2 separate regions of the Homo sapiens genome follow, and region 2 is linked to region 1. Evidence: fine-mapped QTL for protein levels in blood plasma. A gene starts in region 1. The other region holds a variant in brackets. All regions are shown on one strand. Distances are from middle to middle.

Region 1 (15,968 bases):
GCAAGCCGAGCTTGATCAGAGGAAGCAGCACACAGAAAACGCACTGGAGGACGGCACCAGCAGAGATGTCCTGTATGGGAGGATGTTATTTTCAGGGAGGCTGCTCCTCCTGCTAAAGCCCTGCCCCCACCACCTGCCTTCAGGATTGTAGGAGGGAAAGGCTTGGACAAACTGTGTGAACTGGCAAAGTGCTCTAGAATTGGCCACCTTGCTTCCCTAAAGGATGTGTCACCAAATCCCTCAATGCCGTGTCCTCCAAGAGAACTGGCAGGGCTCAAACTAGGGAACTTTGGCTTATGCCCAAGCCCTGTCACCCAATATTTCTGTAACTTTGGACATCACTGTACCTCTCAAAGCCTCTATTTCCAAACTGATAAAATGGAAATAAGAAAGCCAACTTTACTACCATCACCAATGCAAAGATGAACTGAGATCTGTTAAATCCCTGCACATGGAAAAGAATAAATATTTATTGAGTGCTGGATTGTGTGGTTTATATACATCGTGCCAAATGCTACACAAATGAAAGGGGCTGTTATTTATTTTATAAACTTTAGGTTTACCCACTTAAAAACCCAATTTCAAATTAGAAAATTTGGCTTAAAATGACATCACTTAAGCACTTTCTGATTAAATTGTTTTCTTTCTTTTCCCCCGTTTGTAACCAAATCTCTCCAATGAACCTCCTCCCGCGCTTTTTTTTAACCATGGTCTCTAGCGAGTCATGAGCTCAGAGGTTGTAACCAGTATCCTGAACTCTGTTCCTCCACTTATGAGCATATAATACATTTACTAAAGCAATATTTCCAGCACCTACACATACATCTCTGTGCTTCATTCATCCTCACAGACCCCAGAACACTAATTAGGCACTTGGGCCCTGAAGCTTCCTTCTGTGAGTGTCTCAGAGCTAACTTGGCTTAGCAGCACCCCATCCCCATCCCCATCCCTACTCTCACCCCAAGACACAGTCCTGGTTCCCAAGCTCGCAAGTTCCCAAGCTTCTTCTCCACCACGATAGCTCCTCCATCTGCCTACTGTTCCCAAGCCTCCTGAATTCTCTACCCTCACTCTGCCTTTAGTGCTCAGCCCTGTTATCCTGACACCTCTCCCTGCAAACTCACTCTCAGGAACCTCTGCGATTGACATTCATCCACATATTAATGGAACTCCAGAGAGTGGTGGAGCCATATTCCCCCAGCTTTACTCATTCCCAAACCCCTCCAGTCATCATCTGCACAAGAACACTCTTCTGCCCTGCGGAGTCCTGGGGCTGTTCATTACACTAATATGCATGATTGTTCCCTCAACTCCAGCTTCTAGTGTTACCCTGAGGTCAGACTAACAACGTACATTTGTTTCAAGCTTTACACTTGACAAAGTCTTTGCAAGACCACTATTTGATATGACTGTCACAATAATCTCGTGGTAAGTGGCTGGTGTTGTGATTATCCTCCATTTTACAGATGATAAAACAAAGGTTATGGGTTTTGTCTGATTCAGTGGTTCTCAACCAGAGATGATTTTTCCCTCCAGGAGACATTTAGCAATGTCTGGAACATTTTTGATTGTCACAGTGGTGGAAGAGAAGATGCTACTGGCATCTAGTGGATAGAGGCCAGGGATGCTGTCCAACATCCTATAATACACAGGGCAGCCAGCCTCCACAACAAAAAACTATCTGACCCAAATCAAAAGGTCATTTTGATTACTTGCAGAACCAGAACTTTAACTTAGATATTTGGATTTTAGGAGTCTCTGCTCTTCTCACAACCATCTGCCACTGCTCTGAGGCCCTGCTGTGACCATTTGGCACTTGGGGTAGTATAGTTACTAACAAATTCAAGTCACCTTTCTGTACTAGCTGTGAAAATTGGGGTGAGCTACCAGTGATCTCTGAACCTAATTTTCTTAGAACTGCTGGAAGGTCAATTGGTCTATCATATGTAAAGCACATAGTACAGTATTTAGCACACAGTAGGTGCACCTTATTCTACTCCTCCCAATCTTCTCTATTTCCTCAACTTGGATTGTCACTCTTTCTCCTGCTGCTTCCAGTATGAGCATTTTTAACCTTATTGGTGGCCCTCGGGGCTAACCCCAAATGATATGACAGTGGGTTCCACAAATGATCTTAAAAAGCAATGGGTCATGCAAGGGTGGCAAGTTTGCTGAAGGTGAGGACAGCCTGGGTGTACTGAGGCTATTGAATGCCTCTCTCAGCTAAACCGTGAAACTGGCACAGACTCATTTTGGAGGAAAGCCACGGATGGCTCAGCATACACTTGCTGGGAAGTTTGTGATAGTACTCTGGCCACCTAGAGCTGCAGCCAAGTCCTGATTATACACAGGAGTTAAAAGGGAAAAAAGACAGCAGGCAAAATGGAATCCTCCAATAACTCACAGTCAATATTTTGGGTTAAGCATCCATTCATCTGGGGCTACCAGCTTCACCCAGGCACTAGCATGAGCCTTGCCTTCTCCTGTCTGAGCAGCCCTCCTCGGGGCCAGCACGTCACATCTGGAATTCTCCAGTGGATCAGGTCTGCTCCAGGGTGACCTCTGTAAGTCTACATCATTCCCTCCCAATATACAATAGCAGCTACCCCAATCCAGAAAGTGTAAAAGTAACTTAGGAATGAGTTGATTCTAGGGCCATTCTAGGTGCTCTCAATTAAAATCGGGCAAAGTATTATATTCAGAATCTCTCAAAAAGGGATTATATGTTTGAGAAAGCTGCCAGACAGGAGTGGATCCAGGTCGCAAAAAGTGTCACCAGAGTGGCTATGAGTTCCTACACCTTTCAGAAGAACCCAGACTTAATAAGCGTTGGTGAGGATGTGGAGAAGAAATTGGAGCTCTCATACGCTGCTGGTAAGAATGTAAAATGGCACGATTGCTTTGGAAAACAGTTTGGCAGGTCATTAAAAGATTAAACACAAAATTACCGTATAACCCAGCAATTCCACTCCTGAGTATATACCTGAGAGAAATGAAAACATATGTCCACACATATACTTCTACATACATGTTTGTAGCAACACTGTTCATAATAGCCAAAAAGTGGAAACAACTCAAATGTCCATCAACTTGTAAATGGATAAATAATATATGGTAGATGTATACTGTAGAGTATTATCTGGCATTATAAAGAAATGAACTAGTGATACATGCTGCAAAATGGATGAACCTTATGAACCGCTAACATAAAACCTATGCTAAATGAAAGAACCTATTCATGAAAGACCACATATTGAATGATTCTATTCATACGAAATATCCAGAACAGACAAATCCATAGAGACACAAAGTAGATTGATTGTTGCCTAGGGCTAAAGGATGAAGGGAAATGGAGAGCGACTACTGATGTGTTCAGGGTTTCTTGGGTGGTTAAAATATTCTAAAATTGCTTGCGGTGGTGGTTGCATAAACTCTGTGAACATACTAATTTAAGGGATATATTGAATTATATACCTTAAGTGGTGAATTGTATGGTATGTTAATTATATCTCAATACAGCCGAAGAAGGAGGAGGATAAGGAGAGAGAAAAGAAGAATAAGAGGTAGAAGAAAAAGAAGAATCATGGAGACTTTTGAATGCTCTTTGTCAGAATCTCCAAAATATCTCAAGTCCATTATCTACTAGGAGGTAAGATAGCCCAGTGGTGAATTGTGTGGGCGCCAGAATCAAAATTAGTGAACTGAGTTATCTAGGCTTCAGTATCACTACATAACTTCTCGAGAAGTGACACCTGGAATTTGGGTAGAGTGTTCTGCATTATCTGCTATACGGTAATTCTCACTTTAGTGAGTATCAAGTTACCTAAAGGGCTTGTTCAAACACACATTGCCGGGCTCTACTCCTACAGTGTCTGATTCAGTAGGTCTGAGAGGGGCCGGAGGATTTGCATTTCTAACAAGTTCCCAGGTGACGCTGATGCTGTTGGTTTTAGAGCAACACCCCAAAAACTACTTATTGAACATTTAGTTCTTTAAAGTCCCCAGGGTCTATTGAGTAGACTTTTCAAATAACAGCAGAAATGCGTAGCGCAAATTAGTTATATGTGTATGTTAATATACATACTTTATAAGTGCATTATTTGACAATTATTCATAAATGTTATAATTAGTAACTGTAACTTTGATGAAATGATGGAAGGCATTGCAGAATGGGAATCAGAAGACATGGGGTCATATCCTTCCAGTTCTAGAAATTTGGCCCAAAATGTTCTCTCACCACAGTTTCCCCATCTGTGAGAAACTAATTCCAATAATGCCTCACTAACATATAAAGTTATGAGGAAGATAACATAGTAACCTAGTTGAAAACACATGGTCAACTGTAAATGCATTAATCTTATGTTCTCAATGTCTGCGTATGGAAATCATTCTCTATGCGGCCACCAGAATCTCTCTCAAAGGCATCAGCAGTTTCTGGAATCTCCTGAGACACTGGATGAGTTAGGTTGCTTTCAGCTTTAAGTAACAGAAATCTATATTAAAACTGGACCATAGCATGAAGATATTTATTTTTGCACATTAAAGGGAATCCAGCTGAGGTAGTTCTAGCTGTAGTTGAAAGAAATCTGCGGAGAGTGGAGATCAGGCAGAGGCCCTGGAAATTGTTGGAAAACAAATGTATAATAAAGATGAGTGTTTATGATAATCTGCTTTGTCTCTTAGAGCTCTTTAAGGTTTAAAATAGCTCATATCATGTCCAGAATGCAAGATACAACTCATGAGCATCAGGATGATAAACTGAAAAAATTAAAAAAAAAAAAAAACCCTCTAGCATAGAGGTTCTCAACCCTGGCTTCCGGTGAGAAGCCTATAGGGAAGGTTTCAAAGGACGTCATTGTCAGGACCCTGCTCAGAAGCTTCTGATCTGATTGGTCCAGAAATTGCTTAGACTCTGGAGGTTTCCAAAAGCTTTCCAGGTAATCCTTAAATGCTGATAAGGTGGAGAATGATTGCTTCAGCATATCATGAATCAGAGAGATCCTTCTAAGCTAGGAAGAATTCCGATGCCAGCACTGGGCAGTTACTTACGGATGGAAGTGGTGGGAGAAGATGGTGCTAAAAACAAAACTAAGCCTCACATAGCTGTTCAGCCCAGATCCTCTCCCCCTCGCTTCAGTAACCATGATCATCAAAGAAAACTGCATGCCCAACACACACACAAACACACACACACACACACACACACACGAGTTACTTGTTGCTTTATTCTCATGTATGACTGTCTTTCCCTTTCAAGACTATCTTGGTGTTTGATCTAGACTGAATACCGTCTGGTAAATGTGCCACAGGCTAGGCAGATGGTGGGATTAATAGTGTGATTTTTCTCTGGCTCCACATTCCTTTAGGAAGGTGACTCTTAGCAATTGATGTGAATAAGAATCACCTGGAAAATTTTTTAAAATATAAATACCTGAGCACCCCTTGTGAGGTTATGATTTAGCAGGCCTGGAGAAGAGCCACTGTCTACATTTTAACAAACTTCACAGAGGCTGTAGATAGAATTGGTCTATGATCACAATTCTAAGAAACTTTAAGAACAATACTGATGAGAAATGGGAAATACTATGTGCTTAAGAGATGCCCAAAGGTTTCAAAAAATTTGAAAAGCCAAATCATCAACGGATGCATGGAATGGGTAATGAGCACATGAAAAGATGCTCAAAATCATGGATCATTAGAGAAATGAAAATCACAACCACACTGAAATATCACTACAAACCTATTTGAATAGCTAAAATTTTTTAATGGCAATTTTCTGGTAGTGGTGGGCAATGGTATCACCACTTTGGAAATCAGCTAGGTAGTTTCTTGCTTTCTTTTTTTTGTTTTTTTGAGACGGAGTCTCGCTCTGTAGCCCAGGCTGGAGTGCAGTGGCACAATCTCGGCTCACTGCAAGCTCCGCTTCTCGGGTTCACGCCATTCTCCTGTCTCAGCCTCCCGAGTAGCTGGGACTACAGGCGCCCGCCACTAAGCCTGGCTAATTTTTTGTATTTTTAGTAGAGGCGGGGTTTCACCATGTTAGCCAGGATGGTCTCGATCTCCTGACCTCGTGATCCGCCCGCCTCGGCCTCCTAAAGTGCTGGGATTACAAGCATGAGCCACCACACCCGGCCTCAGTAGTTTCTTTTAAAGTTAAACATACATTACCTTGTGAACCAGCAATCTCACTCCTAGGTATTGACCCAAATGAAATAAAAATTTGTTCACACAAAAACCTATACATAGATGTTTATATCAACTTTATAATTACATTTATGTAATTCATTATATAAAATATAATGAATATAAAATTCATTACATAAAAAGTAATGAATTTTCAAAAACTGGAAACAACCCAAATGTCTTTCAACTAGTAAATGTATAAACAATCTGTGGTACATCCATGCTATGGAATATTACTCAACAATAACAAGAAACAAAATACTAACACATACAATGAGATGTTGAATTTTAAAATGGATGAACCTTAAAAGCATTATGCTAAGTGAAAGATGGACATGAAAGGCTACGTGTGGTATGATTCCATTTACTTGACATTCTGGAAAAGGCAAAACCATAGAGACAGAAAGTAAATCAGTGGTTACCAATGGCTGGGTGTTTGGGAAGATTTGACTGCAAAGGGATATAAGGGGATGTTTTGGATTGATGGAACTGTTCTAAGTCTTGATTAGGGTGCTGGCTATGTTACTGTACATTATGTATTTTAAAAGGTGAATTAATTATATGTAAATTATAACTCAATGAAAAGAAAATTCAATGTGAGGGCAAAAATACTGAAGGATAAATAGGGGGTTTATTTAGATTAAACCCATTACATTTTGAGAGCAGAGCACACTTTCTAGACTTGACTGGGTCCAATTTCAGCAGCATGGTAGAATGCTTAAGTGTAGAAATCATATCCAACTTATCTCCCCATGGGCCCATAGTACTTCCTTATGCAACTTATGAGTTCTCAGAGTAGCCCTGCAAACTGGTATACCCGCGCTTATACTCAAGGGTTAAAAAGTGTTGGATTGACAACTTAAAAAAAAAAACAGGCATTCAGCCTTACAGAAATCCTAGATGGCTCTGTTACTTCAGTCTATGATTTCGGTATTTTGAAATCACTGTCTGGGTATTTGTGTGGCCCGGAAGGCTAGTTTGGAGAACAAATACAGGGGTTTGCTAGTAGCGGGTAGGGTAGGACAGAAAGGGGTGAGGTGCTGAAAGGTGAGGGACAAATATGCTACTAATCAGTGTTTTTCAAGTGAATATTTCTACAGGGTAGAGCAGCAGTTGGCTTTTATAATCTAGATACAAAGTTGTTCTTTCTCCAGGGAGCTTCTTAGACTTACATGCTGCTGGTATATTCCTAGAATTCCACCTTAAAACAAGCTGAATGTCCTTATGGCTGACATCTCAGCATGGAAAAGTTTTGCTTAAGCAATGACACACTGCAGTTGGATCCTTCTCACCCACATCTGGAAGCCACATGTCAGCGGCAGCTATATAAAACGGTCAGACCAGCAATCTTAGAGTGACATTGTTTGCCAAAATCCCAGGCAGCATGGACCTCAGTCTTCTCTGGGTACTTCTGCCCCTAGTCACCATGGCCTGGGGCCAGTATGGCGATTATGGATACCCATACCAGCAGTATCATGACTACAGCGATGATGGGTGGGTGAATTTGAACCGGCAAGGCTTCAGCTACCAGTGTCCCCAGGGGCAGGTGATAGTGGCCGTGAGGAGCATCTTCAGCAAGAAGGAAGGTTCTGACAGACAATGGAACTACGCCTGCATGCCCACGCCACAGAGCCTCGGGGAACCCACGGAGTGCTGGTGGGAGGAGATCAACAGGGCTGGCATGGAATGGTAAGGGCCAGTCCCTGCACTGCACTGGGGCTGGGAACATCTCTGCATATCCCTCCTCCTGGGGGCTGCTAGACTCTCAAGGAATATCAGTAACCAAAGCCTGGGCAAATCCCACCCCAAACCTCACCACTGCATGCTCTGGGTGGAGCAGGGCTGCTGCTGAGCGGACTACATGACAGGACAAAAACCTGGGATGGGGAGTGTCTGTGGGAGACAGACTCCTCTGTGGCTCTGTTCCTTCCAGAAGCTGTTCTACCTACTCTCAGTTTGGGCCAGGGGCTGGTGTAGGTCGGCGAGAAGCTTGCTTACCAGACTACCAAAAGATATGTACAGAAACTGAAAGTAATAAACTTTATAGAAATTAAAACTTTCTGTGCCATCGGAATGGCATTTTTCTTTTTTAGAAATTTATTTTTACCATTTTACAAAAGTACTGGCCCACAGTAGTTTGGGAACAAGAAAAATAAACAATTGATCTCTCAGCACGGAGGGTTTGAGAACTATTGATTTAGAGCAAGTGAATGGAAAAGAGGGGACAAGGACATTTAGGCAAAAGAAAGTGGAATTAAATAGCTGTCTACTGCCTTGATTAAATGTGCTCTCTCAATTATGAGTACTGAGGTCCTTCTCTCTGCCTGAATTTAAAGTGGGTTTTATTGCTGGAAAATAGTTTACTAAAGGGTTTTGGAGAGAGGTGCTGTCTTCCCCTGACTGCATTCTGCCTTAAGCAGTGGCATGGAATTTTTTCGAGCTTGTACTTTTTTGTGGGGTGTGATTGTCTCAGCTGGGTCTCAGCCCAGGTGCTTGGTCAGGAGCTCATCCTAGTAGGCACTGACTGCTAGGCTGATTATTTACAACAGCCTAGATGGAGCCAGCACTCTAGGAGGCTTGGAGGAGAGAACGGAGGAGGCAGTCCAGGGAGGAGGAAGCCCACCTGGAGGGCTGCTGCATGTGCTATCTGTAGAGCAACCCAGATGTGTGGCAACAAGTACTTAGTGTAGTGGGGATTGGAGGGGTCAAGCACAAAATCTGGCCAGGTGTGGTGGCTCACGCCTGTAATCCCAAACACTTTGGGAGGCTGGGGAGGGAGGATCACTTGAGATCAAGAGTTCGAGACCAGCCTAGGGAACACAGCCAGACCCTATCTCTACAGAAAAAAAAAAATTAGCCCGGTGTAGTTGCATGCAGCCTGTGGTCCCAGCTACTCAGGAGGCTAAGGTAGGAGGATCACTTGAGCCCAGGGAGTCGAGGCTGCAGTGAGCCATGCTCGCACCACTGTATTCCCTCCTGGGTGGCAGAGCAAGACTCTGCCTCAAAAAAAAAAAAAAAAGAAAATAGAAAAAAGAAAAAGCATAGAACCCTGGGGGACACAACCAGTAGAGAGGTGATGATGGGAAATCCAAGAGGAAGAAACACCGATGGGTGGGGGAGCCAGGAAAGAGAGCGGGCCTTTAAGTAATGACAACAGCTACCATTTATTGAGTGCTTACCCTGAGCAGGCTCCATGCTAAGTGCTTTATGTGGATCATCTCGTGTAATGCTCAAAACAAGGGTATATCCCATTTATAGGTAGACAAACTGCAGTCTAGAGATCCAGTATTTCCTCGGCTAGAAAGCTGGGGTTTGGATCCACAGAGTCTTTGCTTCAAAGAGTTTGTACTTTGCCACAGTGACGGGCTCCTGAGAGGCTGCTGCCTCCACCCAGAGTGGGCTCCCACCCGACAGCTGACTCTGTCAGCAGAGCCAGTGCCACAGGACCAGATTCAGGGCAGTTCTTCCTCCTGGAGAGGGTGGGGACCTGCAAGACCACAGCAGAAGCCCAGCCCCAGAGGGATGATCCCTACTTGGTTACCAGGACTGTGGAGGGGCTCAGCCGGACTGTAGAAGGGGTGGGGAGAGGACTCACACAGGCAGCAGCAGGTGAGGGTGCCGGGGCTGTGGAGGCTGCTTGGACAGCCTTTGTGGGCCATTCTCATCCACCCCCATGGCCTCTGGTGAGCAGATTTAGTTATTCAAAACCCCTTCTGACAGATGCTGATTCAGAGACCAGGCTCACCTTGATTGTTGTCTCCATGACTCCTCACAGCCAGGCCCACTGCCTAATGTGGAGCATGGCAATGACCTAATTACAACTGTCCCTCCAGTCCTCACCTCTCAGGAGCACTATCGCATGGGTGCGACTCCTTTCTAACAGCCGTTTTTTGTGCCACAGTCAAGCAGCACTCAGCCATGGTTCCCCAAGCCATAGAGGAAGAGCCCTAGGCTCTGAATCAGGAGGCCTGGGTCTGGATCCTGGTTCTAATGACTTGTGGTGTGACCTTGGCCCAGACGCTCAGCCCTCCAGTCTCCCGCCTCATTTGGAAAGTGAGCAGTCAGGCTGCATGATCTCTGAAGGCTCCACAGAGCTGTGGCTCACCCCTGAAAACACTCTTGGCTTTTTCTTGCATTCTGTTGATCTTTGTGTTCATCCCTGCTAGAGAGAGAAGCCAAATGATGTTTAGTTTTAAACTTGCCAACTGTGACTGGTTTGTCATGAACTCCCAAACTATTTGAAGAAAAGCAAAAGAGGAAGAAGGTGAAATAACATGATTTTATTTGGCCCATGGGAGTCAAGGGAAAAGCTGATAGGCGAGATACCTCTTCCACCTCCTCTTACTCGGCATTTTTGGGTGTGCAGTGTCTAGTAATTTTGGTTTCCTTTCCTCCTTCCACCCTCTGTTGCCTCCTTCTCCCCGTCTACTAATCACAGGGTTGAAAACTCACAAACATGCAAAACAACTTCTTTACAATAAGATCCAGCTGCCCCAGGACTGACACGAATTACCCTGGAAGCACTTTTAAAAATGATTATGCCTTTGAGTTCAGCCTCCAGTCTCAGTGAAAAATCTGTAAGGAAAGAAATTGCTTATGGGCTGGGGAGCTATTACATCTGACGTTGGCTACAGGCTTAGTCTGTTCTCAGGGAACAGTTGTTGATGGTTTTGTGCAGTTGGGCTGCCTTGTATAACCAAATTAGCTTTCAGGTTTATTTTAAAAGAGGGGAGGAGTCTCGAATATAGGCTTGACAATAGCACATAGGATCTGCTAAAAAGAAAATCTTTCTAATCAAAGTGCCATCTTTAAAAGGTGTTGCCATCATAGCTGAGTGGTCTGTGGTGCTGCCATTGATCACAGTTTCTCTGTTGAAAATCACCTCTTCAAGTGCCGGCTTCTGAAGTTTGGATGATGGTCTCTGGCACTAACAACTACCAGGAGGCCTTACCTGGGTCCCCATGAGTGGTATTTCACCATCCCAGGGCATGCCTAGGTTGTTCTCAGGGAATCTGCTCTAACTTGGGTCAGCACAGGCTGTAGGGCACTGGGTCCTGTGTGGAATAAGATGAAGGTGAAATTTTCTAGTGAGATTGAGCTACTGTGTAGCGGAAGGAGCCCTGGGCTTGGATGCAGGAAACCTGGATTCACAGCTCCTGCTTGTATCTGTGACATTCGGTATCTCATTCTGGCAAAAAAGAAAGAGAAGAAAGAAAGAAAGAGAGAGAGAGAAGGAAGGGAGGGAGGGAGGAAGGAAGGATTGAAGGAAGGAAGGAAAGAAGGAAGGAAGAAAGGAAGGGAAAGAGAAAGGAAAGGAAAGGAAAGGAAAGGAAAGGAAAGGAATGGAAAGGAAAGAAAAGCAAAGGAAGAAAAAGGAAGGTGTGACTCCCACCTCACAAGCTGCTACTTGTGTTACTGTGATACTTGTAGGATAAAGTATAAGAAAACTCTAAAGCAAATTGAAGTCTAAAACAAATGCCTAGCACATCATGGGCAGGTAGTAAAAGTTTAGTGAATCTGAAATTGATGTGGCTGATGTTGGGCAAGCCAGCTTTCCACGGAGTCTGAGTTCAGAGGAAAAGTGGTCCATTTATTGGTATCTACTTTTTACCCCGGGCTTCAAAGAATCTCAAGGAGAAGTTTTGGAGTGGCAGTTTGTGTTAGAGCTGAGTTTATGAATTCAATGACAAGCCACAGACTGGAGAAGAGGAGAAAGAATCTATGCAACAGGGCTATGGCAGCATCGAGGTGCATTTGAAGGTGGAGAGGTTGGGTGGGAACTCCGTTTTCCATGGTCGGACTATTTCCCTAATCTAAGCAAGACCAAGCCTCAGTGTAGTTCAGGGCAGTCGTCCTGAGTCATGGTTCTGAGTATTGAGTACTCACAGGGCCCACTTCCTCGGGGATGCTTTCCAAGACCACCTCCTCTCCCCACACATCTCGCTGTCTCCACTCCCTCAGCCTGCTTTGTTTCCTACAATGCCCTTGTCACTACCTGATTGGCATTTGTTTCTTGTTTTGTCTCCCTCACTAAAATATAAGCTTCATGAACACAGGGGCTTTGTCTCATTCACCACTGTATCCCCAGTGCCTAGACAAGTGCTGGTACATAACAGGCCCTCAATACATATGCAGTGAAAGACCAAATCAGCAGTCCAAACCCCAGCCAGTGTCCCCACGGCCCTCCGCAAGGAGGCCTGCAGGTTTTCCCACAGGGGAACCATTTTGCTTATGTCTTTGATTCCCAATATTCCAGTGTCTATAGTAGGGGTTCCAACTGTATTGTTCACATCTCATTTTGATTTATTGCATTTACCAACATGCAGGATGGTCTTTCAAGATTTCTTAAGGATCGCTAAAACATGCACAGAGGATGGCTGACACACTTTGCCGCCGCAGAATGAAGTTTTTATCAGGTTTTCATTCTCTCAATAATCTTAAGGTCTCGATCAATTTCAAAAATTGAAAGTAAACTCTTTATTTCAAAAGCCATAAGGGCTAAATGCTGCACAGTAACCTATCCTGGTTTGACATTTGTGGAAGAACTGATGAAATCAGTTTGGTGTTATACCAAGGTTAATTTCTTAGCATTTCTTAGCATTCCTAGACACTCTAGAGTTATGAAAATTAACATTAGAGGAACCTGGGTGAAGAGTATACATGAATTTTGTGTGCTGTCTTTACAAGCATTCTGTAAATCTGAAATTACTTCAAAATAAAATTTAAAAAAATAAATATAAGGATGCAGCACAAATATAGTACAACAGAATCGTGGAATTCCAGCACTGGAGGGGGTCTTGGGCACAATCTAGAGCAACCTCCTTACCTCACAGAATAGGAATAAAGGCCATGAGACTGAAGCAATTAAAAACTGAATAAAAACATTGCTGTCAGGTTAGGAACTGTCATCCTCTTTTTACAAAAGTAGATATAAATATCAGTAGAAGGGGAGAGATGGGTCATGGAGCAATTCTGTTTGGAATTAGGAGAGAAATCCATAACTTTACATAAGTATAGGTTCTATGGCCCTAACCCTGATCTACGTGGTGATTTATGATTTATAGAGTATTCCTCATTTATATGTTCATTTGTTTATTCATTCACTACCAAATGCTTATTAGCACAAACTTTCCCAGGCCCCAGGAAGATGGAGATGAATAACATACAGTCTATGCCCATGAGTTATTCAAAAGCTAATATTGTTTGATCTTCACAACAGTATTGGAATCCAGGTGTTTCACACATGAGGAGGTTGCCCTTGCATGGCTAGCAGATGGCAGACGGAGGACCTGAGCCAGCCAGCCTGATTCCACAGTGCTGTGGGTGATATGAAATGCTGATGTTATTTTTGTTCCTGGATAAAGCCATAGTGAGTGCTGACCTAAAAAAGATATCAAATCCACCTAAGGATGACTTCTGAGGGCAAGAAGGCTGAGTGTGGGAGAATAGGGTTATGACAGATCTAGGATTCTTGCCAACTTTCCATCTAGGTCACTCTCCTAAGTGCTAGGAATCAATTGTCTGGGGGAACTTGAGCTCTGCAAAAATGGTTGTTGGCTGCTCTTGTAAGGATGGCAAAAGCTCCCTCCTCCCAGGAGGGGATTTGCTTCTGTCTGGGAACCTGCAGGACACAATCTTCTCAATCAATAAGAGATTTCTGCAGAGTTAAGATATCGTGTGTGTGTGTGTGTGTGTGTGTGTGTGTGTGTTTCTTTGAGGGATCTTGAAGTATTGAAAAGTTAATGAAGTTTAGAGTCAGAACAATTCTCAAAATGCAGCCCCACTGACCCCACTACTACCTTTACTCAAGTCGTCTCAACTCCGAAATACTCAGCTTTCACAACTAAAACACACCTCCCTAGAACTGTTGTTGTGAGAATTAAATAAGATAATATATGTACATTAACTTGTGTCCTTAGGGGAATTACTTACCTTCTCTAAACCTAAGTTTCCTTATACGTAAAATGGTGATCGTGGTGAGAAGCTCATTATTTGAACCCATTTTATAGGATTGTTTTGATAATTAAAATAATTAATGCACGCATAGTGCTAAGCACAATGCCTGCACATTGCAAGTCCTTGATAAAGGTTATTTATTATTACTTTATCATGACTACTCTGTGTAAACTGAGACTCATGGAGACAAGTATCACACAGTTGGTAAATTACAAAGCTGGAGTTGAAAACCAAATTGCTAGATTACAGAGCCTCTGAAATATATCATTTTGCTTTTGGAACATATAATTTAATCACAGTCTATAAATATTATGTGTACATTATAAGTGTCTTGAATATTTATTACATTTTAATAGACACGGAGATAGCATTAGATCTCTTGTTTAAAAATATTATAATTGATATTCATAAACTCACGTCAAATTTACTGTGATGCTAATGTAGCTCATGCAATTCCTGTGTGACCTGGAATTGCTCTCAGGACATAAATGCATCTCACAAGATAATCTAGATCTTCTCAGAGGCCTTAGGGGAAGCCTCTCCTGCCTGTATTTTTCCAAAAAAACCTGAGGAATTTGTATTTTTGGAGGCATTCTCGCTCTGTCCTGTGCTAGGTCTTTCTATCCAGAGATGCTGTTCTGCAGGTCATTTCTGCTTCACTGTTAAAACCTTGTAGACAGACTAGCAGACTTAAAACCTGGACATGGAGAAGACAGCAGAATTCTTACCCAGATGCAGGCAGGAAGAGAGCAGAATGTGTGCAACTTAACACTATTTAAAGAGACTGTTCATATCCCCACCATGGTGGCAGGAGGATGAGCAGTAAACGGTGCAGTGTTCAAAAACTTTGCATTGTAGCCCCATGAGGCTACTCAGTGACAGTATGTGTTAGGTGAAATGTGTAATGGTGATATCAACATGTCACAAGGAAGGAAAGTTAGTATGATTTGGAATTGTCAAGAAAGGAAGGATCTTTGAAGGAGGAGAGGCTTGGTATTGCCTTTTGTGCTCTGATATGTGCTTTCTGAGGCTCCTCTCAGTGTCTAATTGGAGAAGTTCAATCCTGACAATTTCTAATGTAGGCTCCAATATTTACTGAAAGTGATGTTTCGTGACTAGGATGTAGCCTGTCTTTCTATCAGATTACAGGTACTTTTATCATCATGGTAGTAATAACTATGACTTCCCCTGCCTTTCAATTATATACGTTGTGCCAGGTTCTATGCTACACTTGATATATAGCATCTCTTTAGTTTTTGTGTAATACTGTCAGGTTAAGAACTGTCATCCTAGTTTTACAGAAGTAGGTATAAATATCAGCAGAAGGGGAGAGATGGGTCATGGAACAATTCTGTTTGGAATTAGCAGAGAAATCCAGAACTTTGAAGGCTTCTTTTACTGGGCAAACTTGCCCCCAACTGTGTTTGTCTCTGTCCCTTGCCACTTCACTGCTCCACTGTCCCCAACCACTCTCCTATTTCTCTGCTCCTCTGTCTTTGGTACCAGTCTACTTATTTCCAGTATCTGTATTATCATAGTGTCTGCTTATCAGTTACAGTGTCTGGTAATTCTGCCTGTCCAATGTCATAGTGTTTACTTATCAGTACCAGTCTTCTGAAGAGATTCCAGACCAAGTGCAGCATCAGGTATAGAGTAAGTTCTAGTGAATATTTGTCAAAAGACTTAATGAACATTCTAAAATTCTGTGGGCCTTTTTATAAATGCCTGATAGCAACTCAAAGAATTATTCTGGGGAAAATAGAATTAACAAAAATCAAAGCTTTACTCTAAAAGAAAGAAACTCTTTTGGTACTATTTAAGACCTCATC
Region 2 (15,968 bases), 160 kb before region 1:
TATGATATTTACATGCCCCTTAACATTTCTTGCTGCATATGCTGTTCCTCAAATGCTGTTTCTGCACCATATTGTCCAAGATGTGAAACACAGTCTCTTTACCCCTGAGAACTTCACTCACACAAGACATTTGCTTGTGTGGTAGACTTTGCTGAAAGCTTGAGATGATGGAGGGGTTTCACACAGCCCATTATTTGCCCCCTCCCTTGATACACATCCTTTTCTACATTGTCCACGTCTCCACCCTATTAACACAGAAGAGAGAAGCTGAAGAGGATTTTGGAAAGTAAGGGATGAGACAAAGCATGAAAGATGACCAGGTGCTACCCAAGTTGTGGGACACTTTGCTGAAGAGAGGGATCCCTGTCCTCGTGTGATAGGCAGAACCTTCATCTTTCTTCTTCGTGCTCTCCTGTCCATGGACTCTTCGGTGTCTGCTTAGCATGAGCCACCAACTCCCATCTCACATTTCAGTGGCACTGAAGAATTGCAGAAACTTTGAAATTTTCTTTCTCTTCTTTCGCTTCTCTGGCATAAAGGAAAGTAAGCACTATACAGATTAATTGATATTGAATTAGGCCATTTCTTTTAGAAGAAAAGAGTGACTGTTTTAAATGTTATTTCTTCTCCCTTTACAATTGCAACACATTTCTATCTAGTCCCATCCTACAGCCAAGTGTTAATATGTTCTCATTCAGTGGATGATGGATTCTTTACTTTTCATCTTAAAATTAAATAGCTATGTTCTATACCAGAGAAGTGTTCACTGGCTACTAGATAATTCACTCCCAAATGAAAAATAAATGACATTAAATACATAATTCTGTCACTACTAGAGCACTGTATTATTTTGTTGTCATAGTCAATAGATACTTGTTCACCTTTTGGCAGCAGTGAAGGTAATTTTAAACTATAGAAAGGAAAAAGTTCCAGTTATACAGGAATTAATATTCTAAAAGAAATGTGTTTTCTGAATTTAATCTTTTAGATCAAAATGATAGAATTGTAAAGTCAAAAGGAGAAAAATTGAGGATTGGCTGGTTTGTATTATCATCAGTTCTCAAATGTTTATAAGGGCCATCTAAGAGTGAAACGACAATGGAAACACGTAAGTCATTTCCTAATCTTATTTTAACCTTCAGGTTCAAACTTTTTATAGAATAGATGAAATGATAGGTACTTCATTGATAATCTTTTCACATAATCCTGTTTATCCCATAAGTGGAAATACTTCTCAAGAGTGAAATAGCCAAATGGAGGAAAAGGTCTTGGATAGTAGCACATTTTAATGTCTTGTTTAAAATTGTCATTCCAAATTATGATAGTTTGTTTCCAAAGATGGCCACCATCAGTGTCTTGTTTCCCTGCACATATGCACAATTGCCAAATCAAGAGGTGAAGTCTAATTTCCCTCCCCTGTTATCTGGACATCTGGACTGATCTTCAGTTTTTGTTTGACCAATACAATCAAGCAGAAATGATATTACAGCACTCCCAAGCCTAGGTCATAAGAAACCTTGCACCTTTCCCCTGGGCCACATGGAACATTCCTCTTGGGATGCTCTTGAAACACTTCAGTCATACTGTGAGAAATTCAAGTCACATCCAAAGACCACATATAGAAGCTTCAGGAGACAGTCTCAGCAGAACTTCCAATCAATAACTGGCCATATGGTATAGCTATCTTGACCATAAAACTCATTTGGGCCTTCAAATGGTTCCAACCCCAGCCACCATCTGTTAGCACCTACTTGGGAGACTCTGAGCAAGAACGACTCAGCTCAACCCAGTTAACCTAACAGAACTTTAAGAGATAATAATAAATTGCTCTTTTGAGCCACTAAATTTTAGGATGGCTTATAACAACAATAAATAACTGAAACAGAAATACAAATATTTTGAATAATCTACCTGTTCTTTCTTTTTTCAACTCTTTGGATAGTCTCTTTTAACCAGGTACTATGCTAGGTGCTGGTGATGGATTCAAAGATGAAAGAGATATAAGATGTAAAGCCTGATGTATTTTCACAAGGAACATTTACTTGGTGAGACAGACAAATGAGTAGAAGAATATTATGCCATATGATAAGTAATATAAAAATGCACATGGTTCTTGAGGGATCACGTAGCTTTGGGAAAACTAATTGACTTTTTTTTTTTGGAAGGTTATTAATAAATAAAACTAAAAACTAAGCAGGAGACACAGAGACTCACCTGAGCAGCAGCACGGGGCAAAGATGGCATGTGGAACTTTCTTGGAATTGCAAATATTTCAGTCTGGCTGGGGCATAGAATATGAAGACTAAGTGGAGAGATATAATTGGGAAAGTTGACAAAGAGCTCAAAAATGTCTTTGTATACTGTCAAACGAGTTTGGATTTTATTATTCAATGTTAAAATTCTAGCCATTTTCATCCATTCATCTTTTATTTTACCTTACAATCCTTCAATAACTAAAAAATAATCATACTCCTCCAATGGCTATGTTGAAGGATCTTGAGGACAGGAAGAGAGTCACATTGTCTGATTTATGATTCAGGATGATGGAATCTTCTGACAAGATTTTTATTTTTTAGATCTTAAAATGCATTCTTTTCAGTGAAGCCATCTTTGGAGTTAGTCATTACTCTCACCTTATCTGTCATCTTGACTCCAATATGCTATTCCTCTTCTTTTGGTCTAGACTCTAATTTTAAAGCTATCTTCAAGTTAAGGAAAGGTCATTTTTCCACAGTTCAGTTCTCTGAAAAGCTTACATCTCCCAGTGAAAGTCACAGTCCAGGAGTGAAGCAATCACATGCTAGAACTTTAGGGCCAATTGGGAAGTCTTTACAAACACTTGCCTTGGTCGATCTTACTTATTGCTACAAGCCTGAAAATGCATAGTCCTAAAAAAGGTGGTCTCTCTGTGCACACATGTAATTTTTAAAAAGGAGAGGGCAATACGAAGGGAACTGAGGCTTGATCACCAAAAATCAGCACAATGAAAGCAAATGATAATGAATAATGAGCACTAGAATTCAAATTACCAGATGTTTTAAAGAGATGGAGTGCCAGTTTTCAATTCCATTTTGAGCACCACATTACAAAAGAACTATTTTAAAAATAAAAAAATGATTGAGGGAAAAGAAAAACAAATAAAAGAATACCTAAACTACTGAATGACCTCATTTGCTCATGATAAACTTCAATCACATCTTCTTACTCCATTCCCAGTTCTTTTATAGTATGAGTAGCAGCAATTCTCTGATCTTCAAAGACAAATCTGAGTGAATTCATTGGAACTCCCTGCCTTTGACAGTATGATTCTTTGAGTTTCTTGAGATGTGTTGTCATTTTCACTTTGAAGTGAATCTCGCTGCTATCCTGTCCAATGACTTTGAGTTTAACATATTCTCATTCCTTCTTATCCTCCAAGTCATCAGTTGAAGGTTTTGCCTCCTGATCTTACATAGGTGACAGGGGCTTCACCCAGGGGTCACTGCTATGCAGTGTTTCTAAAGGCATGAGGGAAGGGGCAGGGTGCAGTCAAGAAGCCTCTATGCGGTAGGTGAGAGCTGTGGCATCCAAGAATAATGGAGAGGGTGGTAGGTAGGTGGCTTCTAAAAAATGGTAAGGATCTGTAAGAGCTACTGTAGAGTAATAGGATTGGGCTGACTTGAGTCTCAGAGAAGGACTGCTGCATAGCTACATGGTCAAGCTAAAGTTTAAAAGAATGACTTCATACTGTCAATAATCTGCATGGGTATGTTACCTTTTTTTCCTGGCACTCAGCAATTCAAGTATGGCAGTGAGAAGGTGAGTAGCTTGATTGATCCAAGGTTATGACTTTTCTGGGCAGGTGCAATGAACTCAAAAACTGGATGATAGTTAAGAATATTGACAAAAGAGTAGTGAGAGAGATAAGACACAGGGTCTAAGCAATTGACAGCGTCTAAGCAAATGACTTGGACAGCTCATTCACGTGAAAGAATGGGATTAAAAGTAAGAAAGCTGAAAGGATCAGGGGCTGTGGTTAGAGAGAGGTGTTGCACAGATTGGAGACTGAATGGGCTTTCCTTCTGGGCATGAGAGACACAGGGTGATGTAACACTTCTAGAGAAGAGATTATGAGCTATCCATGATAGTGATGACATCACTAGTCATCACCATCACTTGCAGTAGGAGGTCAGTAGAATCCATCTATGTCAACAGTGAAGAATGCTAGAGCTGTAGTACATGAGCCAACAGGAGCCTCAAAATAAGAGAGAAATACAGAAATGATGATAAGGAACAGGCTGATTAACTCTGAAGCATTGAGCAGGTAACGTCTGAGCTTAGCTTTTAAGGATCCATAGGAGTTCTTCAAGGAGATGAAAAAGGTGATAGAGGAGATTTCAGATAAAGTCAGTATCACCTGCCAAAGTTTACAGGCATTTAAATTGTTTTCTACCACAATATCCTCAGGAGGTATAAACCATAAATACATGTTCTACTTTCTATTTTTCCTCTTTTCCTCAGACCATGACCATTCTTGAAATGAACTTTCCCATAGAATTAAAATAATCCCATTTCTGGATACCTGAGTAAGTTTGACTTAAATCTTTTCTCAGTTTGCCAGTTGCATAGTCTGAACAATCCTGCTACCTGTGGTTCTTAAGGAAAAGTGGTCATAGGTAAAGTTGGTGCACCAGCCTAATATGATTCTACAGAACTCTTGTTTAACTTTGAACAAATGCCACTTTTATTACTTTACAAAAATTGATATCCTAGAATCCATGATTTCTTCATGGTCCATTTTCTTTTTCTATCCGTTTTTGGAAGCAGGGTGATTTTAGAAAGAGTATGTATGGCATTCAAGGCTAAACAGAGTTGGTGTTGAATTGTGCTAACAACACCTACAAGCTGTGTAACATTTGGCAACTCACTTGGCCTTTCTGAATTTCCGTTTTCTCTTTTGTGAAATACAGATAGCATGTCTATCTCCTAGAATTATGAGAATGAAATGCAATGTCAATAAGGGATGGTACAGAATAGATGCTCAATGTTTCCTCTTTGTGGTTCTCTCTGAATCTCCCTTGCTTCTCCCAACTCAAGCAAATTAGTTTTCCTGAGCTAATTTCTTTCAAGCATATGGCTGCTGACCTTTTATTTTTCTTAATCCATTGACCCCTCTATATTGTGTATCTGCCCCCTGCCACAGCATCACATAAATATATGATAATTCCCTGAAATTGTCCTGCTTTCTTAGAACTTGACTTCTGGCAGACTAACTCAGAAACATTCAAGAGAAAAAGATGAGGAAAAGGGAATCTCTTTTATACTGGATAGTTTTAATAACAGAATCCTGGAGACAAAGTCAGAAAGTGATCATGGGAACAGAAAATAAAGAGAAAAAATGCAAGAACATAGAGGAGACACCCTAACAATAAGACTACGAGCAGGAAAGTGTCCTCCCATGCTTTGCTGAAGCTGAGTGATATCTGGTTAAAGTTTCCTTGGGCTCTTACTACCTTTCTGAAACTAAATGTTGTTTGAATAGGAGGAGCTAAATTTTTCATAAATAAATCTCTCTGATGGTTTGTTACATGTTCTTTATTTTTTTCTGTGTTAAAATGTAATCCGTATTTTAAAGTTTTCCCACTTGCCAGACTTATTTTACATTTTATCTCATATAGAGGTCTGCACCCAAGGAAAACTGAGATTCTCCCACCGGTTCTCCATGTAGACTTTCAGAACAGAGTAGCACACTGTATTTTGGTGAATGACACTCCCTGGGGTTGTGCAAGCATGCTTGCCCTGAGAATTACAGAGGCTGGGTTTTCAGGGACCCAGGACACTGAAATCCCTGGAACTGCCAAGCCTCAGTAGTTTCTTCACCTTTTCCTGTTAATGATCACACCACACTACCCAAGTTTCTATGAAACTATACAGCAATGATAGAAAGATAAGTTTGTAATATAGACAAGACCATCAAAAAAAGTAATTTACAAAAGGAGAAGTATAAATGGCCAATGAGCATATGAGAGGATGCTCTGCCTCTCTAGCAGTGAGAGCAATGCCACTTAAAACAGCAGGGATAAGCCATTTAGAGTGATTTGACATTGATAGCATAAAATAATAACCATTGTTGGTGTGAATGTGAGAGAAGCCTGGAAGAGATTATTCCTATTTTTATTTTCCAAATTTAATATATGATTATGATGTGAGCTATGTCTATTGCAGCAAGGGGCTAATAGAAAGTTGTCCAGAGAAGTGGCCAGGCACGGTGGCTCACACCTGTAATCCCAGCACTTTGGGAGGCTGAGGCGGGTGGATCACGAGGTCAGGAGATCGAGACCATCCTGGCTAACACGGTGAAACCCCATCTCTAATAAAAATGCAAAAAATTAGCCGGACGTGGTGGTGGGTGCCTGTAGTCCCAGCTACTCAGGAGGCTGAGGCAGGAGAATGGCGTGAACCTGAGAGGCAGAGCTTGCAATGAGCCGAGATCGCGCCACTGCACTCCACCCTGGGTGACAGAGCAAGACTCTGTCTCAGAAAAAAAAAAAAAAAAAAGAAAGAAAAGAAAGTTGTCCAGGGAAATATAAAGAAGAAAGAAATCATCCATGGTCACCTTGCTCAGTGAAAACCTCCATTGCCATTTACAATTGATTTATTTGAATCAGGATCCAGTTGAGATCTAATCATGGCATTTGGGATGTCTTTTAAGTCTCTTTTAATTTAGAACAGATTCCCCCCGCCCACACACACTCCTTTTTTTTCTGGTCCTTGACTTCTGGAAGAAACTGAGTTAGCTGTCCTACAAATTGGTTCAAATTCTGGATTTGTCTATTTGCTCTCCAACTGGTCTGCAAACTAAAAGTTAGACGTAAGTCTGGATTCAACTCAAGTTTAACATTTTTTGGCAAGAAAAGTTTGTAAGTGATGTTGTGTATTTTTTATTGCATTACATCATGTAGCACATAATGTCTGGTTGTCTCATTTTGAAACCGCTTACATTGATCAATGGCTTCAGATGAGACAGCCTGATTCTTCCGTTGTAAAAGTCCCTATCATCTCTTCTCTTAATGGTTTTAGCATCTGTTAATGTTTATTGCCTGAATCAATTATTTCATTAGTGTTGTTAAATGGGGATTTTCTAATTTCACTAATTCTTCTACATTTAATAACTATAATTCTTCTCTAAGGAAAAAGATGTTCCTCATCAACTAGGGATTTTTTTTATTTTGAAATGTAGTAAAACAGGACAACCAAAATGAGTATTCCCTAATTTTGTCCACTCAAATTCTTAGAAATAATGACAAACCAGTGGCAAGAAATATCCATACGTGTTCAGATTATGGTTTCTAAGTAACATTAACACTAAAAGGGACCAGAGATTCATGGAGAAGGGCTGAGTCCAAGTCCAGGGTGAAATAAGTAAGATGAACCTGATGATAAACCTTGCGGTGGCAATAAAGAATCTCTCAAAGATAACAGGGCTGTGTCAAAAAGATCTCCCAGGAACTAGTTTGAAAGAACTTCTGCCGGTGCAAGATGGGACAATCTTTACATCAAAAACAATAGTGACTGAAATTGACTATCTCATATTGAATATATTTTAAGCCTATTAGTTCATAATAACACAGACAAAAAATAAAAACTGCTAGAGAACCACAAAACCACCAGCCAAAACAAAAACACAACAAATACCATTTCAGAAAAGTAGGGCACCAACCCCTTGCTCTGAAAACTGGTAAATTACAGGGAAAGGATGATTTATGTTTCTAAATGATCATCATGGCTGCTGTGTGAGGAGTATGTTGTAGGAAAACAAGAGTAGAAACAGGGAGGCTTGGGCCAGGCTCCAGGGACTGTGTAAATTGCCAGGGATACATGGATGATGAGCTAGCCCCTGACCTCCTGGAGCTCTCATCTCCAGTGGGGAAGGCTGCCTTGTCACCAGGCAGTTGGAATCAAGCGGGAAGTATATAATAACAGAGGCAAGCAGACGGTGCCACTGCAGCACACGAGAATGGCATCAAGCCATCCTGGGAGCTCTAATACAGAGGAGTACATACCCAAGCTGAGTCTTACATTGAGTCAGAAATAAAAGATGATCATATCCCAGACCAACTCCAGAACCAGTTGGAGCCTGCTGGAACTAAGGCAGCTGTAGTCAGTACTGACTCAGGACCTGGATAGGATTAAGCTGGCAGGAGGAAGGGAACATTAAGTCCAGCAGAGAAGGGACTAGGGAAGATGGGCTGAAAATTGATCCAACATAGCCACAGGGAGGATAGGGCTGAGATTTCTTTTGTACTACCTTCATCTCTCTGTTTATCTGATCATTGCTTGTAACGGTGAAAGATGCTAAATGGGGGAGATGAGAGGAGAGCTATGAGGAAAAGTAGGGAGGCAGACATCAACGAAGCACAAATCACAGCTGTTCTACATGGAAGATGAATCATGCTATGTTGCTGAGCTGCATCATAGGAAAAGAGGTGCCGTGTCTATGCTGTGTTGTGCTATGTTAAAATTTTAATCACTAGAGATGATATAAACACTGAGGAATCAAAAACACACTGAGAGATCACTGGCCAGACAGAAGTAACACATGGAGACAGACTCAAGCTGTAGAATAACATGAGATGATGTCAGAGTAGACCCTTACATGACCCAGGGAATCTGCAAATATCCCAGATCCTTGGGATATTTGGATGGATGAAATGGACCCTGCACAAAGGAGGGTGAATAATATGGACTACCTATGCACAGAAATACAGAGAAGAGTTACAAGCCAATGCTGAGCTGAAGTGTAAAGTTTCAGAAGAGAGTTTAAACAAATATTTAAAACAATGATAATATTCAGTTGTGGCAGGAGTGCAGTAAAATTGCTGTTTCGATGTACTACTAGTGAGAGCTGAATCAGTACAATCTTCCTGGAAAAAAATTAACGGTATGTTTAAATATTCTTAAAATGTTCTTATACTTTTTCCTAATAATTTTATCTTTGAAAATAAAAGAAAGGCCGGGTGCGGTGGTTCACGCCTGTATTCCCAGCACTTTGGGAGGCCGAGGTGGGTGGATCACAAGGTCAGGAGATCGAGACCATCCTGGCTAACACGGTGAAACCCCGTCTCTACTAAAAACACAAAAAATTAGCTGGGCGTGGTAGCGGGCACCTGTAGTCCCAGCTACTTGGGAGGCTGAGGCAGGAGAATGGCATGAACCTGGGAGGTAGAGCTTGCAGTGAGCCGAGATCATGCCACTGCACTCCAGCCTAGGCGACAGTGCAAGACTCCGTCTCACACACACACACACACACACACACACATACACACACACA[A/CACACACACAA]AAGAAAACATAAGAAAAAAGCCCCCAAAATATACAAGAATATGTATACAAAGTATTATCAGAGTATTAGTTTAGAGGAAAATAGAAAACAATCTAAATTCCTACCAGTAAGGAATGATTAATTAAGGGTGGCATATGTATAATTGGAATATTATGCAGGAATTAAATGATTACAGAGATTTTAGTAATATGGGGAATGTTTATTATTTGAGATTAAGTTAGAAAGTAGAAAATAAATTGTAAAAATTTTTTAGTTTTTAAAACCATAGAAAAACTATAAAGTAGAAATACAGCAAAATTATCTGTAATCAAATTATGTTATTTTTAGAAGCTTTATCGGGAGATAATTTACATACAACAAAATTCACTAATTTAAATGTCTAATTTGATGACTTTTGACAACTGTTTATACCTGTGTAACCACCACCACAATTAAAATAAAGAATATTTTGATCAACCCCAAAATTTCTATGCTTTTTTGTATTCCCTTCCTCTGACTCCCTGACCCCTAATAACCACTATCTGCTTTCTGGTGCTATAGTTTTGCTTTTTCTAACATTTCATGTAAACAGATTCTTATAGTGTGTAGGTTTCTATGCTAGTGTCTAGCATAATGGTTTTGAGATTCGTCCATGTTGTTGGATGTATCAATAGTTTGTTCCTTTGTGTTGCTGAATAGTATTCCATTGTATAGATATACTACAATTTGGTTTTCCATTCACTAGTTGTTGGGCATTTGGGTTGTTTCAATTTGCTTACTATGATAAATAAAGCTTCTATGACCATTAGTGTACAAGTCTTTGTGTGCTCATTTTCATTTCTCTTGGGTAAATATGTAGGAATGGAATTATTAGATTATTTGGTAAGGGTTAACTTTATAAGAAACTGCCAAAATTATTTTCAAAGTATAATAGATGTATAATAGATGTACCTGTTGTAATGTATGAGACAGTTCCAGTTATTCCACATTATAATTTTGAGGATTCCTTTTAGATTTGATTTCTAGTTTTATTCTGCTGTGGTCTGAGAAGATACTTGATATGATTTCAATTTTTAAAAATTTATTGAGACGTGTTTTGTGGCCTGTCATATGGTTTATCTTGGAGAATGTTCCATGTGCTTATCAGTAGAATGTATATTCTGCAGTTCTTGGGTAGAATGTTCTGTAAATATCTGTTAAGTCCATTTGTTCTAGCATGCCTTTTAAGTCCATAGTTTCTTTCTTGACTTTCTTTTTCAAAGATCTGTCTAGTACTGTCAGTGGTGTATTGAAGTCTCCCACTACTATTGTGTTGCTGTCTATCTCATTTCTGAGGTCTAGTCGTAATTGTTTTATGAATCTGGGATCTACAGTGTTAGGAATATATAAATTTAGGAATGTAATATCTTCTGTTGGATTGATCCTTTTATCATTATATAGTTTACCATTAACCCTTTGAAGTCTGTTTTTTGTTTTCCTAATATAAGAATAGCTATTCCTGCTCACTTTTGCTTTCCATTTGCATGGAATATCTTTTTACACCCTTTTACCTTGAGTTTATATGAATTCTTACATGTTAGGTGAGCCTGTTGAAGACAGCAAATATTTGGTTTGTGATTTTTAAAAATCCTTTCTGCCATTCTGTATCTTTTAAGTGTAGCATTTAGGCCATTTACATTCAATGGAAATATTGAGATGTGAGTTACTGTTCTCTTTATCATGTTGTTACCTAAGTTTGATTTTTTTCATTGTGTTATTGTTTATAGCCCTTGTGAGTTTTAAGCTTTCAAGAGGTTCTATTTTGGTGCATATTTGGCTTTTATTTCAAGGTTTAGAACTCCTTCTAGCATTTATTGTAGGGCTGGTCTGGTGGTGGCAAATTCCCTCAGCATTTGTTTGTCTGAAAATGATTTATTTCACCTTCATTTATGAAACAGATTTGCTGGATACAAAGTTCTTAGCTAACAGTTGTTCTGTTTAAAGGGGTTGAAGTTAGAACCCCAATCTTCTCTGGCCTGTAAGGTTTCTGCCGAGAAGTCCGCTATTAGTCTGAAAGGTTTTCCTTTGTGGGTTACCTGATACTTTTGTTTTAGTGCACTTAGAATTCTTTTTATCATGTTGACTTTAGATAGCCTGATGACTACAGGCCTTGGTGAAGATCTTTTTGCAATGAATTTCCCAGGAGTTCTTTGATCCTCTTGGATTTGGATATTTAGATCTCTAGCCAGACCAGGGAATTTTTCTTCAATTATTCCCTGAAATATGTTTCCCAGACTTACTGTGTTCTCCTCTTCCTTAGGAACAACAATTATTCTTAGGTTTGACCATTCTACATAATCCCATATTTCTTGAAGACTTCGTTCATTTCTTTTGATTATCTTTTCTTTATTTTTGTCTGATTAGGTTAATTCAAAAGCCTTGTCTTTGAGCTCTGAAATTCTTTCTTCTACTTGTTGTAGTCTATTGTTAAAACTTTCCACAGCATTGTGTAATTCCCTAAGTATGTCTTTCATTTCCAGAAGTTCTGATTGGTTTTTCTTTAAAATATCTGTCTTTCTAGAAAATTTTTCATTCATATCCTGAAATGCTTTCTAAATTTCTTTATGATGGTTTTCACCTTTCCCTGAAATCCCCTTGAGTAGCTTAATAATTGACTGTCTGAATTCCTTATCTGGTATTTCAAAGATTTCATCTTGGTTTGGATCTATTGCTGAAGAGCTAGTGTTATCTTTAGAGGTGTTATAGAATCCTGTTTTGTCATATTACCAGAGTTTCTTCTCATTTGGGTAGCCTATTTCTTCTCATTATTCTTGAATTTATGTTTTATGTAACTGTGTTTCTTCATTTGTTTGTTAATTTCTTTTTTCCCCTTAAGGATGTGACTTTAATGCTTATAGTTAATTATATTTGGTTCTTGATGCTTTCAGGGGTGAAGACTCTGTAAGAGTTCCTTGATAATACAGAGTCTTTGTATAGTGGCTTTCTCATATGCTGGTTGTAGTAGCAATGTGCTCAGTATGTGAGCAAGTTCACTGTCTCCTTTGGGGTTGGAATGGTAGAGGTCTCTCGAAGCTTATCATATAACCATGTGGTGTGCACCTTTTTATTTATTTATTTATTTTTCCCCAGTATTTTATTTACTGGTTTGATGGTTTAGGCTTCAGGCCAGTAGGGGAGATGTCTCTGGTTAGCAACCAGTTGTGGCTAAAGCAGGTGGGCAAATGCAATACCCAATGGTAGACAGATGTCCAAGCCTTGACAGAGGGGGCTGGAGGAGCTCTCAGTGAGTCACACTGAGGTCTTAACAGGGGGAAGGGTTGGAGCCACCTCAGGTCCCCTGACAGGTTAGCAAGAGAGTTATCTAACTCTTAGACACACCCCTGTCTCAGTGCTGTAGCTATTCAGATCACACAGGTGCCTCTTTTCATCTGTAGGAGTGTTGATATTCCAAGTAAAGAGGAAATGTGACTCTGTCTCTCTTGTAAGCCTGAACCTGGAGGGTGTTCCTTCTGCAGGAATACAGTCACTTCAACGTGTTTGAGAAAGGCTGTCTATAGTTGCACCCATGCCAAGTTCCCATAGAAGAAGCCCCAACTGTGCGTGCAATAGTGAACAAGGGGGGAAAGATGTCCCCTTCTCCAATACCCTTTACACACACCAGGGCTGTCTGACTGTTGGGTTAGAACTGAAGATGCTCCCTGCTGAGCCCAGCACTGCAACTCTGCCTCTGCTGAAAGAAACTTCCCACCAGTGGAAAGATCTGCTGCTCAAGGCCTGCCATACAGATTACTTTGTCTCACAGGGTATTCCCTTGCTGTGGTACACTCCCTCTTCCCCTAAGAGTGGGAGTACCTGGGAGACAGACTATTGTGAGTGTTGTTGCTCCTCTGGGTCTAGCCACCCAGTAAGGTTGCCACACTCCAGGCAGGAGCTGGAAAATGTCTGCAAGGGATCAAGTGATATGACCTCAAGTCTCCCAGCAGTGGGTAGCAGCACCAGCTCTAATGGGAGTGGCAGGGGAATGATGTATACTCTGTGAGATTCCTTGGTTATTGTTAGCCTTAGTGTATTGGCTTTCTCGAATGCCAGTTAAAGTAGTAATGAAGTAGTCATATAGACAGACTCAGGACCTCCTGGTTAGCCAGAGTGGTGCAGGCAGTGGTGATAGCTCAGATCATGCAGCTGTTTTCTCCTTCCTGGGTGCAGTGTTATTCTCTCAGGAGATGCTGTAATGGACTGCATTGGTTGGTCTCCAGCTAGGAGGTGGTGCTTGCAAAAGAGCATCAGCTGCAGTGGTAGCAGTGGGATTTTTGCTTGCCTTATTTTGCCTGGGAAGTGGAGGATACTCTGGTTTCTCAGGCAATGAAAGAAGCCATATAGCTCCCAAAAGATTCTATCTTTTGTATTAAGTTACCAGGGCAGGTTGTGGGGCAAAGCCAGGTGGGGGCTGAGTCAGGTAGGTTTGTACTGTGAGTCTCATGCAGGGTAAGCAGCAGCCCTTGTGGGTATCAGAAGACAGGAGCAGTTCTCAGGCCACTGGGTTGATATTCCAGAGGGTAGTATTGCTGCCTCTGCTGCACAGAAGAGTTAGCACAGGGAGAGGGGAGTAGCAGGTGATGGTAAGCCCCACACAGATCCCACACACTTGGCGAGGCATAACCACTCGTGCAGTGTTCCACTGGCAGCGGTGGGCTCAGTTCCAGGTGGCCTGCATTCAGAACTCACAACTGCTCCAAAGCATATGCTTTCCCTCTGGAGATGGCAACTGTGGCTTTCAGTCCATGCCCCTCCCTATCCACTGCGAAGCTGGGCACCCAGCTTCTGCACTTGTGGTTCCTGGACTAGCAGCTGGAGCACAATTTTCACTCCCCTGCCCCAGCCCTGGCTAAGGGAGTTCATCCTTACCCAAGATTATATCGTGAAACCCAGTTGGGGGCTTATTTCAACCTGAGACCCCTGCCTGAACTATTTGGCTGTGCTCTGCAGGGTCCTCTGTGAGGAACAGTGAAAAATGCTTTCCCTCCGTCTGCACTGGAAACTGGGAGTGCATGCAAGGGTCTTCCTGTGCTGCTCCTACTTTTATATTCCATGTGCCTCCCCAGGTTGGTTCCTGTACTGGGTAGGGTTAAGGCCTTCCCCTGGGACCTAGACTTCCAGGGTCCCTGGAGGGGCTGTGTGTCCCAGGGGCAGTCTCTCCTCTCACCCTAGGGACTCATAGCCCTTTACCTGACTCACTGTGTAGGCTGCAGCCTGTTGCTTTCTTCAAAGGGTCTACAGATTCCTTTGGTTACCCTGTTCAGTTTCTGCATCACTTCCTGAAAAAAGTTCACAGTGTGAATCTCTACACACGACTTTGTCCTTCCAAGTGGGAGAGGTATGCTGGCAATGCCTCTAATCCACCATCTTGGACAAACAAAAAAGAAAGAATTGACATTATTTCTTCAATAAATGTTTGAAAGAATTCAACTGTGAAATCATCTGGGCCTGGGGTATTGCGTGGGGAAGAATTTTTAATTATAAGTTCAATTTCCTTCAAATATAGACAAAAAACTATTCAGGTTATCTTTTAGTTTTTGAATGACTTGGGTAGTTTGCTTCTTTTAAAAAAACTTTCCAGTTTTCAAAGGGAATGCTTCCAGTTTTTGCCCATTCAGTATGATATTGGCTGTGGGTTTGTCATAAATAGCTCTAATTATTTTGAGATACATCCCATCAATACCTAATTTATTGAAAGTTTTTAGCATGAAGCCTTCTTGAATTTTGTCAAAGGCCTTTTCTGCATCTATGGAGATAATCATGTGGTTTTTGTCATTGGTTCTGTTTATATGCTGGATTACGTTTATTGATTTGCGTATGTTGAACTAGCCTTGCATCCCAGGAATGAAGCCCACTTGATCATGGTGGATAAGCTTTTTGATGTGCTGCTGGATTCAGTTTGCCAGTATTTTATTGAGGATTTTTGCATCAATGTTCTTCAGGGATATTGGTCTAAAATTCTCTTTTTTTGTTGTGTCTCTGCCAGGCTTTAGTATAAGGATAATGCTGGCCTCATAAAATGAGTTAGGGAGGATTCCCTCTTTTTCTATTGATTGGAATAGTTTCAGAAGGAATGGTACTAGCTCCTCCTTGTACCTCTGGTAGAATTCGGCTGTGAATCCATCTGGTCCTAGACTTTTTTTGGTTGGTAAGCTATTAATTATTGCCTCAATTTCACACAAGGCAGGGATGCCCTCTCTCACCACTCCTATTCAACATAGTGTTGGAAGTTCTGGCCAGGGCAATCAGGCAGGAGAAGGAAATAAAGGGCATTCAGTTAGGAAAAGAGGAAGTCAAATTGTCCCTGTTTGCAGATGACATGATTGTATATCTAGAAAACCCCATTGTCTCAGCCCAAAATCTCCTTAAGCTGATAGGCAACTTCAGCAAAGTCTCAGGATACAAAATCAATGTACAAAAATCACAAGCATTCTTATACACCAATAACAGACAAACAGAGACCCAAATCATGAGTGAACTCCCATTCACAATTGCTTCAAAGAGAATAAAATACCTAGGAATCCAACTTACAAGGGATGTGAAGGACCTCTTCAAGGAGAACTACAAACCACTGTTCAATGAAATAAAAGAGGATACAAACAAATGGAAGAACATTCCATGCTCATGGGTAGGAAGAATCAA

What was found. A credible set is the group of variants that fine-mapping cannot tell apart. PIP is the posterior inclusion probability: the model's chance that the variant is causal. Sun 2018 read protein levels with aptamers (SomaScan).
Region 2: its variant is the best candidate, but not a certain one, in a credible set for the plasma level of the DPT protein (Sun 2018, PIP 0.89).

Annotation. Positions count from the first base shown.
Region 1 is chr1:168,720,774-168,736,741 of GRCh38, reverse strand. It overlaps DPT (dermatopontin), which reads left to right and starts at 7,536. Exons shown (of 4, transcript NM_001937.5): 1 at 7,536-7,872. The coding sequence starts at 7,568.
Region 2 is chr1:168,885,621-168,901,588 of GRCh38, reverse strand. It overlaps the pseudogene SUMO1P2. Among named protein-coding and RNA genes, the nearest start is that of LINC00626, 110 kb to the right of the region's middle. The variant A/CACACACACAA (reference allele first, on the strand shown) is at 9,311.